Regions from separate parts of the Homo sapiens genome. Here region 2 is linked to region 1. The links come from fine-mapping of genetic effects on gene expression. A gene starts in region 1. The other region holds a variant in brackets. All regions are shown on one strand. Distances are from middle to middle. Region 1 holds the start of MAMLD1 (mastermind like domain containing 1). Region 2 overlaps MAMLD1 (mastermind like domain containing 1).

Region 1 (4,380 bases):
ATGGGCATCATTTGTCCCACTGAGGAAGATGAGAGCAAGTGGTCCAAGGGTTGAGTGGAGGTGCTGGGAACAGAAACCCACCTTCCATCTCCTTGGCTAGTGCACTTGGAGGTTGCAGATAGAATTTTAAAAGCATCCTGCCAATGCTCCGTGATAGGCATGGCCATCTCCCATTCAGCTTTGTTTAATCAGATTTCCTTCAAGGGACTCCCGCACTCTCGCAGTTCTACCGGGGCACTGGCAACCCTGAGATGACTCTAGCTCTCCCTGGAGGGCCTTGAAGGTAAGGTTCAGTCACCAGAGAGCAATAACCTCTTCTGGCTGCTTGCCCTTTGCAGAGCAGACAGGACTGGACCCAGACAAGGCGGATTCCTTCACAACTGCCCTGACGAACTGTGTACCCCCAGCCTCGCCCTGTTGGGCTGGGCGCATCCTGGCAGCGCTGGGGCTGCGAAGCCACAGCCCCTGCATGTGCCTCGCGGTTGGGCCTGGACGCCGCTCTTCCTCCAGGTAACTTCGTGAAACGCTAGGAGGCAATCGCCCAGCCTCACTGCGCCTACGTAGCCCACGAAGGGATCTTGCTGGGTTCTCGGAGGTGGCCCCAGCGCTTTCCGAGGGCCGAGAGCGTGGGCGTGGAGGGAAGGAGGGGCCTAGTGGGCGGCGGGCCCACCCCTTTATTCGTGGCCTGCGGCTCCGCTGAGCGTGACCAGATGTGTTGGTGACAGGTTGCTACTCAGAGGTGCGGACAGGAGCTGAGCGCTGCTGCTGTCGGAGCAGACGCGGCGTTCCCGGGTTGTGCTCAGCCCCTGCAGCTGCCATCGGCTGGAGAAGTCCAGGTTAGGAAACGCATCCGGGGAGGGGATCCTAGAGAAGGGGCGCAGCCAAATACCCGGGAGGTGGGATAGGTGGGAGGGGAGTCGCTGGACTCGGCGCCAGGGCAGATGGTGGACAGGGCGCGCTGGCCCGCCCGGCAGTTCCCAAGGAACCTATGTTCCTGCAGAAGCCGCAGGTGTCCGTCTTGGGATAACTGCGGAGGGAGCCAATCCAGCCCAGCTTGGGCGGGAGCATCGCGTGCCCTGGTCCAGTGGAACGGGAGACTGGCCAGCGAGCCTGGACTCTGAGCTAAGCGTACTGGCGGGCGACGCCGACAGCGTCCGCGCTAAGGGTGGGGGACTGGGAAGTGGGGAGTGGGGCACTCGGCCGGGATGGAGAGAATGCAGTTCACTAACTGCCACCTGAGAGCCCTGGTCCCCGCTGCCGCCACAGCGGGTCTGTTTGGCAGTCAGGGCGCGAGCTGGTGAGCGGATGCGTGGGCGGAGGGACTGGCGCTACCCACCCAGCAGCCACCCACTGCAGGTGAGTGCCCCTCCCAGGGCGAGGGGAGGAGAAGGGCCTGGCCGCTAGCCCTAGGGTCAGGCTCTGGTGAAAATGGGAAGGGGGATGGGGGCTGAATAGGCTACTTTGTGATGAGACTCCCGTCCCTGTGACACTTCAGGGTCCTCTGGGGATCTGTCATTCCTCTTGCAAGCTCTCTTGTTCTCTGGTCCCTCTCCTCCTCTCCTTATTTCCTCCTCTCCTCTCCTCTCCTCTCATCTCCTCTCCTCTCCTCTCCCTTCATCGTGTCTCTACCTCTATCTCCGCCGGTGCCTCTCTCGGTATCTGTCTCTCAGTCTCTGCCTTCTCTGTGTCTCGTACGGTCTCCTGTCTTTCTTGGTCTCTCGGTCCTGAGCGCTCTCTCGCCCTGTCACTGATGACCGCTGGCTTTTGGCTCTCCGTGCTCGCTCTTCGTGTGTCCCGGCCACGCACGGCTCACCAGCTCGTTTTCCCCAGACGCGGAAAGTCTACCTTCGGCGTGCGGGTTTCCCAAGCGCGCCGGGCCCCGCCTGCGGCCCTCCGGCGGGCTCTGTCTGCTGGAGGCGCTCCGCTAACCCTGCTGTCGCCTCTTTCCACCAGCGCACCGCCTAGGCAAGCCAGCTGACGCCGGGGGCACAGACCACCCTCCACTGAGTGCGGAGCAGCCAAGGTGAGTGCACCGATGCCCCTTCCGCCCCTCCGATCCCTCCCCAGCTGCCCTGGTTCGAGCCGACTGGAGAAATGAGGCTGCAACAGCGAAGCCAGCCTGCGGCCGCTTTCTCCTCTAAAGACTGGTGGGAGGGCCCGGGAGGCCCCTCGGGCGGCCGCAGCTCTTTGGCTGCCCGCTGCCCCATCCCGGAGTGGAAACCCTGAGTTTCCAGGCTTCGGGCTGGCGGGGTCGCGGGCAGGGCAGCGCGGCTTCCCCTTTAAGGCCGGAGCCGCTCGTCGCCGTGAGTGTGAGGGTGTGTGAGTGTGCGGCGTGCGTGTCTCCTCCTCCCCGAGTGACACAGCAGTGAGAAATGCCTATCAGTAACTTAAACCCCCGAAACTCCACCTTCCGGGCGCGCGGCGCGGAGCCGGGCGGTGGGAATGGAGCGAGCAGATTGAGGCCGCCACTGCAGCGCCGCCAGCATGAACTTGGCCGCGAGCTGAAGCGGCCGGCGGCGGGCGGGCGCGGGGGCACCGGCCGCTAGCCAGGGGGTGATCTGCAACAGGGCTGGGTTCCTTGGCGGCCGCCTGAGTCCAGGCTGCCCGCGCCGGCGGCCGCCCGCCCCTCGGACACTGCCCCCGCCGCCGCCGGAGCTCTGCAGCACGGTAAGGCTGAGGGCGGGTGCAGGAAGTCTGACTGTTCTGGGGGTTCCGGGGTACACTTGTAGCCCCCAGTTATGGTCCCCATCGCTGAGGATCGGGGTCCCAGGGGTGCTTCGAGTCGGTAGACCCTAAAGTTTGCTCTGAGCACACGGCCCACCTGGCGCTGCGGGCGGCCACCCCCTTCTCGAACCAGCCCGGCTGGGCTGGGCGCAGCTCGAAACGCCGGAGACCACGGCCTTTGGCTCGGCGCCCGTCGGGCGTCTGAAATCCGGCGGGGACAGCCACGTACCGGGGAGGAAAGGTAGAAGGGCGCAAGCTCCTCGGGCTACGCTGGGCTACTGGGAGGCTCCCACTCTGTCCCAGCACCCCCGGGTCGCTTGCAGCCTGGGTGTCACCGGCGACGGTGCCTTCACATGCCAGCTGCCTGAGCCCAGGCCAGTAGGCAGTGGGCGCTGGATGAAGGATTTCCCCACCCCAACGCTGTTTGCCGCCTCTGAGCGAGAGTGTGGAGTGTGCGCGCCGAATCCGCTGCCCTGCACTCCCTCCCCTGCCAACTCCTGGGAAGCGCAGCCCGGAGCTGAGCTGGTGTTCAGGGCAGCCCGGACTGGGTTCCTGCGGAGCAGCCCCGGCGCCCCTGCGTCAGAGTCCGCGCTTCAGGTTCCCCAGCATCCGCGCGACGACAGAGCTGGGCGCCCGGCGCCGGCTAGCGCGGGCGGGAAGCCCCCCGGAGCGCCGCCAAATACTTTTCTCGGCCAGTTGGCTTGGCCAGGCTCCGTCCCAATGCAGTGTGTCCGAAGCCTCCTGGAAAGCTGGAGATGTCGTCTGATTCTGATCCGTGATTAAATTCGGACTGAGCAGACACTAATAGGATTAGCCTGCCAGAAAGCTCGGCCCTGAAGCCATCGGAACCTGTGCAAACACGCGCCTCGGGCTGGAGCATTCACTCCCGCCCCGCCGCGCTTCTGCAGCTGGGTGCGGCTGACCTGGGCACCCGGAGTGTGGGTGTGTGTGAGCGGGCGGGAGCACAGCGTGGCTGGGGGACGTGGGGAGAAGGGGCTGCTTTTGCTGGGGTGGCTTGTCGTTGTTGTTTGGCACCACGGTGCCCCCCGGGGGCGCGGTCCCCACGGTGAACGTGCTGCTCACGGGTAGGCAAACCCAGGCCGGCTCCGGGACATTGTCTGCAAGGGCGAGCGAGCCGAGCTTACTAGAGGCGGCTGCGCTGGAACAAAGGCGCAAAGTCTCCCTGAGACCAAGCAATTTTGAAAGAGTTGGCTAGGGAGAGGGCCTGGGTCTCCCGGGGTAGACCCCCGCGGGAATTGCGCCGCCCCCAGCGGCCCCGGCCCGCGCCTGGGGAATTGTGTTCCCTGGTTGCGGTGAGCCGGCGAGCGACATCGCAGCGGCGCGGCCCAGCTCTTGGCAGGCGTGGGTTGCCGCCCGAGTGCCCACCGGCCGGGCGGGGTCGACCGTGCACCCGCCGGGGCTTCCCGGCCGCCACCGCAGCTCTGGGCCCCTGGAGGCCGCGCAGCTTCTTTCCTTCCCTCCCTCCCACCTCTTCTTGTCTTTATAGATCCCCCCTCCCTCCCACCCCCGCCGCCGCCGCCGCCAACAATCCGCTTTATAAAAAGCCCCTTTGTTTCCCAGGAGGCTGGAGAGAGGGAAGGGGAAAAGGGACGCAGAGGCAGAGGGCGGGGGCGGCTGTCTCCAAGTGGTTTCGAG
Region 2 (4,380 bases), 120 kb after region 1:
CTCTCCAGGCTTCAGTCTGTAAAATGGAGATTAGCATACCTTTCTCATGGGGCTGCTGTGAGGATTAAATGAGATGAGGTAACAGCGCTTGGCATAGGGCCTGGTACACAATTATGCTCCATTGATATTAGCTGTCACTCTCAGGAAAGTTCCCGAAACCCAGAACACCAGTAACCCAATGGAATGAATTTAGTCAGCCTCGGCTCAGCATCCAGGCTCCTCTCTGACCCCCAGGGGTGGACGGTGACTTGGAGAGAAAGGGCAGGGGAGAGCTCAGTCCCTCTGGGGCTGCGTGCTCACGGACAGTCCCTTAGGGGCGTTAAGGAAGACTTTTGCCAGGTGGCTGAGGAGCAGCCAAGGCAGCAGACACAGGTTGGTGACTCCAGAAGGAAGTAGAGCCGCCAAGCCAGGCTGTGGTTTCCTGAGTGCCCCTGACCGTGGGTAGGGGAGAATGTTGTCTTCTCTTCCCTCTAAGCACGGCCAGCTGAACTTCTAGGAGTTACGTGGATGCTGAATAACAAATGCAACCACAGGACGACTTTAGGTGGGCAGAGAGGAGGGGGAAGGAGGAGCTAAGTTCCACCTGCAGCCAGCGTGGATCTGACCCCACCTGCTTGCAGCAGGCTCAGGGGTGCCTGACATTTCAAGACTCAGGCAGAGGGCTTACTGATACACAGTGACAATGAACAGGGCGGAAAGCGTGTACATGAGTGGCCAGGAAGGAAAGCTGGTCCTGCATAGTCATGGCGCACAGAGCACGCATCCTGAGGGGATACCTCCCCTCTCTCCTCTCGTTTCCGTCCTTCTTCTGCACCACTGACTCTCACTCCTAAAGCCTCCAAAAAGAATCTTTGCAGAAACCCAAGATTCCTTTTGGTTTGAACTTCCAAGGCTACACTAGCCCACTCAGTAGGGCATAACCTTTAATTACTGCTGTCTCAATTAGCTCTGCAAATTAAATTCTTTATATTTGAACCATGACTTTTCATGGAAAACAAAAAGGAACAAACCAGGTTAGTGAGGCCAAGAGAATTTCCGATTCTGATCAAAGTTACATCTGCTCCATTTACAACTAGAGTCAGGAGAGGCAGAGACAGCAAGTGAGCCTTTTCCTAGTCTCAGAATCACTCATTAACATTTTCAAAAAGTAATTATTATATTACTAAAATACATGACCTCCACCCCAAAATCAGATCCACCACATATTTTCAAGGAAGGGCCTGTCACCTTGGACTTACAGGTCTTCTCCCTCACTTCCCTGCATTCCTCTCTCGTTTTGAGAGTAAGGCTTGCGGGAGAGCAATACTGCTGTCTGTGTTCTCAGAGAAATTTTGTCTTTTACTAATTCTGGCGAGAAACATCACAGATTTTATTTCAAAGGTTAGTCCTGCTAAAATGCAAGAACAGAAGCCTCTAGAGGAATCTCTGTGTTGTCCACCAGTCAAATGATAAGTAAGGAAGTGCCTCCACTTGCCAGATAAAGGACTGGGGACCAGGCAGATTTCAAAGAGCCCGTGGGTCAGAGCCGGGGCCTGCCCTGTGCGTATTCTCTGGCAGACAAGGAAATGTTTTCCTGAATGAGCATTCTTATTTTGTATTTAAACATGATGGTACATACAAGCTTAGTTTTACCATTCTTTCTAAATTAAGCTGCAAAGAGCTGTTTGGTTTCGGGAAACTTTTTCTTAGCTGTTTTGTGTGGAACTATGATTAGACACCGTGTAACATGCATTTTGAAAATTCGGGGACCGATATCTCAGTGTTGAAAATGTTTTGTTTTAACCTCTCTAAATTGCCAGGAAATGAAACCACATGGGCTGTTGAATTTGGGAAACACAGGCTTAGAACTTGGTATTAATCTTACCAAGAATCAAAAAAAAGTTTTTTTTTCAGTTTCTTTTT[C/T]GGTTTCTAAGGGCCATTAGTGATCCTCCACCTCAAAGCTATTTTTCTTTTTCAAAAAGCGGAAATTTAAAATGAGCTGCTTGTTAAATGCTAACCTTTTAAATGTCAACATTTTTTTTCTATTAAAAGTTAAAGAATAAGTGAGACGACACTTTCAAATGAAGGTGACTTTACATTGTTCCCCTGGAGGAATGAGCCATCAGTTAGTGTGGTCAACCCCAAAACTTACGGGGATGCACAAGGCCGCCTACTTAAGATGCATCAGTAGTAGAGATCAATAGATACAATTTTTTTCATTGCTTAGTAACTGGCTTATGAAAGCTGAAGAGGCAATCATTTTCAGAAACCTCCTGTCAAGTTTTTTGTTTTGTTTTTTGTTTGTTTTGTCTTAACATATCTGAAGAGAAACAAGGAAACTTGCTGAAGTTAGGACACCCAAAATGAGCCCTTTTAAAAATGAAGTGCACAAATTATTTTATGCTAAGTTAATTAAGACAACCTACTTATTTGTCACTGTAAAGCAAGGCAAGGAATCTCATTGCGCTTTTCAAAGAACGTAAGAGGACAGAAATAAATCATTGTGTCGTGCTGCTTTAAGCTGTATCTCCTTATGAATACCTACAAACCCAAAACACAGAACACCATATGGAGCGAGCAGTCCAGTTTTGCGCACACAACAAACATGAAAGAGAAGTGCTGTCGCTCTACTACTACTATGTCCCCAGGTGAAAAGTTCGCAAAATGTAAACAAGATCTAGAGCAGATGAAACTCACGGTAGACTTGCTCCATTCAGCTGTGGCCCTAACACCTACAGCCAGCACTGTCACTGAGTGCAGGAGTGGATGGTGCAGAGCGCCAAGGGGAATCAAAGACGTGACCCTTCCATCCAGGTGAGCAAAGGATGAGTACTCAGAGGGCTGGACTGCACCCTCCCCTCCCCATCCTGTGCTTCTGACTCTCAGATCCACTTCTGACTCTCACTTCCAGCTTCTGACTCTCAGATCCACTCATGGTCCCATATCGTGGATTTATGGAATCCTTTCCCGAGTCTATTTGTACTTTTAGCCTGTTCTGTCCCTTAGGGATTGACAAATCCCACGATCTGGGCCTGCCCTGTAAAACAACTATGTGGGGCCTGACCTGGCTGCTTTTTAGCTTGAAGGGGATAGCAGAGGGTAGAATGCTGGTTACATTTAAAGCACCCTGCTCCCAGATCCAAAAGAAAGTTTCTGCTTTTTCCTAAGGAGTTGAAACAGTCTGGGATTTTATCTGATTTTGTTATTTTGCCTACAATGACAAACACTGCTTTTGTTTGTTTTATCATGTTGTGTTTTTTGCTAGATGAGTGTTTATCATGCCGGCTGCACCCATCCAAAGCAGTAAGGTTGTTGAAAGCCAAAAGCAGCAGAAAGGCCCAAAGAGATCACCCCACCTCACCCACAGGCTCACCTCTGCAGGTGTCTTCAGACAGCTGACTCTTAACTCTCATCTCAGCAACAGTTTCTAAGATAGAGAGTGGAATAAAGAGTCAGCATTCATCCATTTCTTCGATGTTTTCTCCTTTACCCCATGTGAACCAAGTTTCTTGGTAACGTGCAGCTAGGACTCACACAGACGAAAAGCACAGAGCCACAGGCCTTGGCTGGGTTATTGGAGCTAGGTGCACAGGAAAAATAAAAGTGGGTGCTCCAGGACATTATATATATAGTCCTGGGCTAAAGGTGGCCTTCAGGGCCTGAAAGATGGATAGCTGTACCTCACTAGGAATTATCCCACCTCTTGCTTTGCTTGTGGGAGCTTTCAGTTTGCAGCTAAAGGCTCAGGTTCCGGCCAGCTTTTTCCCCTGTAGCATGCTACCAAATCCGGCCATCTTCCAGTTTTGAGCAGAGGAGGTGAGCGTAGCTGTGGAGACACATATTCTTCTGCAGGCCCATGTCGGGGTGGCCCATGAAGAGAATTTGCCAAAGCCAGCTGGCTCAGCAGACCAACAGATGAAGGTGGACTACTCATTTGCAATTGTGATTAATGATCATTTATTTCCATGTGACAAAGCTTTGAACGATGTGGGAGGCCCTCACCCATCCCTGAGTGGGAATAACTGGGAATGATTCCATGACCCTTTCCCTTTATCTGGCAATCCTTTCAAAGATGAGCTCTGGAAAATGTGAACAGACAATGCACTCCACTATAGCTTTCTAGTTTCACATCTTCAAACACCAAAATGTTGACACCCATTGGGATGGTTATTATAAACACATACACACAGAGAGAGAAAATAACAAGTGATGGTGAGGATGTGGAGAAATTGGAACCCTTGTGCATTGTTGGTGGGAATGTGAAATAGTGCAGCCACTGTGGAAAAAAGTACGGCAGTTCCTCAAAAAATTACACAGAGAAATACCGTATGATCCAGTGATTCCACTTCTGGGTATATGCCTAAAAGAATCGAAAGCAAGGCTGGACACAGTGGCTCACAC

Evidence for each region.
Region 2: its variant is fine-mapped to the expression of MAMLD1 in blood mononuclear cells (TOPMed, PIP above 0.99). The same link has a PIP of 0.9 or more in whole blood.

The regions. Positions count from the first base shown.
Region 1 is chrX:150,360,864-150,365,243 of GRCh38, forward strand. It overlaps MAMLD1 (mastermind like domain containing 1), which reads left to right and starts at 2,454. Exons shown (of 8, transcript NM_005491.5): 1 at 2,454-2,667.
Region 2 is chrX:150,477,190-150,481,569 of GRCh38, forward strand. The region is part of intron 5 of MAMLD1 (mastermind like domain containing 1); the gene reads left to right. Among named protein-coding and RNA genes, the nearest start is that of MTM1, 89 kb to the right of the region's middle. The variant C/T (reference allele first, on the strand shown) is at 1,903.